Regions from separate parts of the Homo sapiens genome. Here region 1 is linked to region 2. A link means that fine-mapping ties the variant in region 2 to the expression of a gene that starts in the linked region. Tissue or cell type: visceral fat. Region 2 holds a variant in brackets; the other region holds the start of a gene. All regions are shown on one strand. Distances are from middle to middle. Region 1 holds the start of RNF157 (ring finger protein 157). Region 2 overlaps RNF157 (ring finger protein 157).

The links. PIP is the estimated chance that this variant, and not a neighbour inherited with it, causes the effect.
Region 1: RNF157 starts here. The variant in region 2 is the best candidate, but not a certain one, in a credible set for the expression of RNF157 in visceral fat (GTEx, PIP 0.83).

What each region holds. Positions count from the first base shown.
Region 1 is chr17:76,239,166-76,241,881 of GRCh38, forward strand. RNF157 (ring finger protein 157) reads right to left here and starts at 1,328. Exons shown (of 19, transcript NM_052916.3): 1 at 988-1,328. The coding sequence starts at 1,075. It overlaps LOC105371896 (a long non-coding RNA gene), which reads right to left. Exons shown (of 6, transcript XR_007065913.1): 6 at 1,697-2,716. RefSeq lists an enhancer at 296-968 and silencers at 1,273-1,412, 1,433-1,502.
Region 2 is chr17:76,211,540-76,214,554 of GRCh38, forward strand. It overlaps RNF157 (ring finger protein 157), which reads right to left. Exons shown (of 19, transcript NM_052916.3): 2 at 825-943. Among named protein-coding and RNA genes, the nearest start is that of RNF157, 27 kb to the right of the region's middle. The variant G/A (reference allele first, on the strand shown) is at 1,233.

The DNA.
Region 1 (2,716 bases), 27 kb after region 2:
AGAAGTCTTGAGAATAAAATTAAAAGTAATTAATTAAAATAAAACTACTTGCAATTAAAAGTAAACACCGGCTAGGTCATGCAATTCATACTGGCCGGTGCTCACATAACTGAACTACCTTGTGATTCTCTGCTTTGCTGTCAAAATCCTCCTCCACCTCCAATGCTGATACCACAATCCAGAGGCTAGAGACATTTAAGTGAAGGGATGATTCTAATAACAAACATACTTCTATACGTTTCCAATACCTCTGCCCTGTCCCAGAGCTGGTCCCACTCCAAAACCCAGGCTTGCCACTACGCTAGCAAAGGGGCAATCCGAGTAACTCTGATACTCAGATTCCCAAACATTTCTGTTACTTTCCACCACCACCACCCCCCCCACCCCCCGGCTTCTGACAGCCTCTGCAAAAGCACCAGCACTGCAAATGCCTGTTTGGCTTCCATCCTTCAGCAGGCAATGGAAGCTTTTCCAGGAGAAACCTAATTCTAACCTTTCCAGAGGCCAGGAGACGGCAGCGCAGGGATAGCACCTGGCGCAAGTGCCTGTTTGGATGCCGAGGTCGCCTCCCTCGCGGCCCTCGGACCCCGCGAGGCAGGTAGGCTTTGGGCCGGGCCGGCCGGGTCCGTGCGGGGCGCCGACCTCGCCTACGACGCCGCAGCCCCGCTCCCCAGGAGCCTCGGTCCCTGCGGGCACGCGTCCCCGTCACGGGGCCGATTACAATGGAGGCCGCTCCCGTCCTCCCGTGGAGGGGCTCGGTGCCCTCGGTGACCCTGCTAGACCCGGCAGGACGCCCCTTGGGCTAATTCGCCCGGGGCGGGGGAGACCTCGGCCTTCTCGAAGACCTCCCGCGCTCGAAGACCGTTTCGGAGCGTCCGCAACCACTGAGTCCCCGAAGACCCGCGGGGCCCCCTCAGGCCGTCCCGACCCAGACCCCTGCCCCTGCCCCTCTCCCTCCTCGCGGCTGCGGCGCCCGCCCGCCCTCACCGGACTTGGGCGGGTAGCGGTACACGGAATTAGACGGGATGTCCACCTCCTCCACGCCCGCGTGCTGCCGGCTCGTCAGGGCCCCCATGGCCGCTGCGGCTGCAGCCCCGGCCCGGCCCCGGTGCCCGCGCCGCCCTCCGCGCTTCACCGCGGCCGCCCGCCCCGCGCCCGGTGCGGGGGCCGACTGCCCGCCGCGGCCGGCTCCGCTGCGGCGCTGCGGCTCTGGCGGCGGGGAGCCCCCGGCGCGCCGCGCACCATCCTCCGCCGGGCACCGCGGCGGCGCCTCTGCCAAGGGGGCTGCGGGTCTGGGCCGGGGGCGCCGCCGCCGCCTCAGGCCGCGTGATGTCAGCGGCCGCTCCGCGCGGGGACCGCGGCGGCCCCAGCCAATGGCGAGGCGGGGCGGGAGCGCCCGCGCCGGAGCAGCCAATGAGCGCGGGACTGCAGCAGGAGCCGGCGGCGCGTGCCTCGCGCGGGGAGCCGCGGCTGGACTCGGCGCGCGTGGACGCGGCCCAGGGCCTCGCGGCGGGGGCGTGGGCGTGGGCGGGGACTCGCGACGGGGACGGGGGCGCGGCCGGGTGCCCGCGGCGGGGCGGGGCGGGACCGGCCGGAGCTGGGACCCCAGGAGACGAGCGCTGCACCCGGCCGGGACGCGTCGCCCCTCCGCGCCTGTTTATCCCGGCTCGGATTACCGCGCAGGGAGCCGCCCCCTCCCGCGGTCCGCGAGGACTGGCCGGGAGCTCGCTCGCCATTGTCCTGGGCGTCCCAAAGCGGGCGGTCCCCGCTCCGCTGCTCCCGCGCCTGGAGGAAGCCTTCCCAACCCCGCCCCTCAGCGTCGGCCGGCGGAGGTCTTCGGAAATCTCATGCAGGGGGGTAGGGAGAGGGGTCCCACGGTGCATTCGCATGTCTCCTGCCCCGTGTTAATGCTGGTGACCGGCTAGGAAGATGCCGCCTCCCTCTCACGTGCGTCTATTCAAAGCGCTCCCAACTCTATACATGCTGTTTAAGGCTCCTTGTAGCCCTAAAGTTAGGAGAACATCGACTGAGGATAAGATCAAGACATCCAGCCTCTGTCTGTATCGTGGAAACGGGACCCCGGAAACTTTGGAAAGGCCTGAGTGCCAAGAGAGTCAACGCAGGCGAAAGCGAACCGGGCCAGGCAGAACCGGGAGCTCCTGTTGATAAAAACACACACAACAGTGGGAAGCTTGGGCCGGCGGAAGACGTCATTCCATTGCTTAATTACAGACATTTGTGTTTTAAACCTTCTATTTTCTTTGTGGGTCTGGTGTTTTTTTTCCTGAGAGAGTGGACTGATCAGCAAACATTTCAACTGCTAGAACATGACTTTCACAACTTTTCAACAGTGTTCGAAGTACAGTTTGGGGTGTCTGGTTCCCTTGATTAGGTTTGTAAAGCTATTTTACGGAGTCTAGGTCTTTCCTGGTTATATTTTGTTTTTGTTTTTCTGTGTTTTGAGACGGAGTCTCCCTCTGTCGCCCAGGCTGGAGTGCAGTGGCGTGATCTCAGCTCACTGCAACCTCCGCCTCCTGGGTTCAAGGGATTCTCCTGCCTCAGCCTCCCGAGTAGCTGAGACTACGGGCATGTGCCACCACACCCGGCTAATTTTTCTACTTTTAGTAGAGATGGGGTTTCACCATGCTGGCCAGACTGGTCTCCAATTCCTGACCTCCGCCCCCCAAAGCGCTGGGATTACAGGCGTGAGCCACCG
Region 2 (3,015 bases):
ACCTAGTTACATGACTTTGAGAAAAATGTATATAAAACCCTTAGAACAGTGCTTAGAACATAGTGTGCACTTCCTAGCTTCTGTCATTATTCATCTCTCTGAACACCTCAGTTCTCTCGCTTATAAAATAGAGTGATAAGTCCTAAGTCAAGTGGTCTTCATATGGAACAGGGGTCTCTAGGACCTTCCTAGCACACGGTAGCCACTCAATAGCCACCTGGCGGCTATTATTACAAAGCCTCCTGCATGATGCAGAGAAGGTGCGCAATAGAAATTTATGAGAAGGAACAAGTGAGAGAAATGTATTCTCATATCAACTCATATATCAAGAGAAAAATTTTCAGTCATTCATTCAACAATCATTTATTAAGGGCTTAACATTACGTGCCAGGCTTTGTTCTAGGTTTGGGATACTACAGTAAAAACAGTCCTTGCCTTATGAAACTTACGTTCTAGAGGAGGAGGCAGACAATAAGCAGAGAAAGAGACAAATCAATAAAAGGTTGGTGTTAAGTGCCATGAAGAAAAAAAAAAAAGGTAAGCCCTTGGAAAAGGGTTGCCTAAAGAGGTGACAGGGAGAGATCTGTCCTAGCTTAATTTGTGAGACTCATCCTCTCCCTCACAAGACTCCAGGAGCTCTTCCAGTCCTCTAGCAACAAGAGATCCCATACAACCAAGGAGGCTGCAGTTTGTCTTCTAGTGCATCTCTCTCAACTCAGACCAAGCTACAAACTGCTGAACAAGCAACTGCAAACTTATTTTTGTTACATTTTTTGAATTGGCCACTTAAGCTCCAAGTAGGAGTAAACTGATTACAGCCATACCACAACTGGTCTGTTCCCCAGAAAGTTCAGATCGCTGTTCTCTCCAAACAGGTAACCTTCAGGATGAGTTGAGTCAAACTTCTCTCCTCCCATAATGAAGTGGCTGGCAAAATAGCTTCCTAGAGAGGAACAAACAAAAAAAATCAAACAAGCAGAAAACAGTCAACCTAAATCTAGTAAAAAAAAAAAGCTGATTTTTAAAATGTTAACCTTTTGGGCTGTGCGTGGTGGCTCACACCTGTAATCCCAGCACTTTGGGAGGCTGAGGCAGACAGATCGCCTGAGATAAGGAGTTCGAGACCAGCCTGGCCAACATGGCAAAACCCTGTCTCTACTAAAAATGTAAAAATTAGCCGGGTGTGGTGGCACATGCCTGTAGTCCCAGCTACTCAGGAAGCTGAGGCAGGA[G/A]GATGGCTTGAACCCAGGAAACAGAAGTGCAGTGAGCCGAGATCCTAGCACTACACTCCAGTCTGGGCGACAGAGTGAGACTCTGTTTCAAAAAAACAAAAACAAAAAAGTTAACCCTCTGAATGAATAATTAGAGCAATTTCTAATCCCAGAGTGTTTTCTTTTCCTGATTTGGGACAATGGCACAAAATAAGTAAAATCATAGCAGGGAAAACCCCAGATACCAAACGTAGACTAGATCACTGTTTTCCTTTTAACATTCTTAACTGAATTCTTCTAATGATCTGTTTAAAATACCTCCAGCCAAAAGACCAAAAGGTTCTACAATGCACATTAATGATCATATATATTTTTTGGTTCCTGACTTTTGCCTTTAAACTTGAAGTAGTTATTCCATGTATTGAAGAATCTCAGCTACAGGTATCGGCATATACATACACTGTGATATTGTAAAATATATGTTTGATCTTCAACCCTATTTCCTGGAATGCAACTCTTAAAATCCTTGGAATATCCAGGCCGGCATGGTGGCTCATGCCTGTAATCCCAGCACTTTGGGAGGCTGAGGAGGGCGGATCACTTGAGGTCAGGAGTTAGAGACCAGCCTGGCCAACACGGTGAAACCCCATCTCTACTAAAAATACAAAAATTAGCCAGGCATGGTGGCATGCGCCTGAAGTCCCAGGTACTTGGGAGGCTGAGGCAGGAGAATCTCTCGAACCCGGGAGGCAGAGGTTGCAGTAAGCCAAGATCACACCACTACACTCCAGCCTAGGTGACAGAGCAAAACTCCATCTCAAAAAAAAAAAAAAAAAATGCTTGGAATATCCAAAGTGATGTCTTTTTTTTTTGTCTTTACATATGCTAATGAATTAACCACTGCCTGGCAGCCCCTAGGTAGCCTCAGGATGGCGGCTGGTCACTGGAAAGAAAAGGCAGGATTAGAGGGTGGGGACTTTCAGCCCATCCCCCAACCACTGAGGAAGGGAGAGGGGATGAAAGTTAAGTTGATCATCAATGTCCAATGATGTAATCAACCATGCTATGTAATGAAGCTTCTATAAATACCCAAAGGACTGGTTCAGAAAGCTTCCAAACAGGGGAACACTTACAGGTTTCTGGAGGGTAACATGCCCAGAGACGGCATAGAAGCTCTGTGCCCCTTCTCACATAACCTCGCCCTATGTATCTCTCTCTGTATCCTTTGTAATATCCTTGATAATAAACTCGTAAATGTGTTTCTCTAGTTCTGTGAGTCCCTCTAGCAAGTTAATCACACCCAAGGAGGGGGTTATGGGAACCCTGCTTTCTGGTTGGTTAGTTGGAAGCACAGGTAAAACAACCTGGGGCTTGCGATGGGCATCAGAAGTGGGGGGCAGTCTTGTGAGATTGCACCCTCAACCTGTGGGATGGGACACTATCTTCAAGTAGTATCAGAAGTGAAATGAATTGGAGGACACCCAGCTGGTGTCCTCTGCAGAACTGAGTGGTTGCTGGTGGAGAGAATCCCCACACATTTTGCTGACCAGAGGTCACAGAAGTTTTCTGTGCTGCTTGTGTTGTGAGTGTATAGGAGAAACTGAGTTTTTTTCCTATATCCGCAGACGCACACATTTCTTTGCCTAGATTTTCATAAGCCAGCTTATACCTACACACAGAAGTCTCAGTACCCACCCACCACTACTGCTATACCTCCATAACCTTCTATGATGAAGGTTCTTCACACTTTAACTTGCTGCAAACATTATTGTTTCACAGGAAAATACGAATTTAGATAATACAG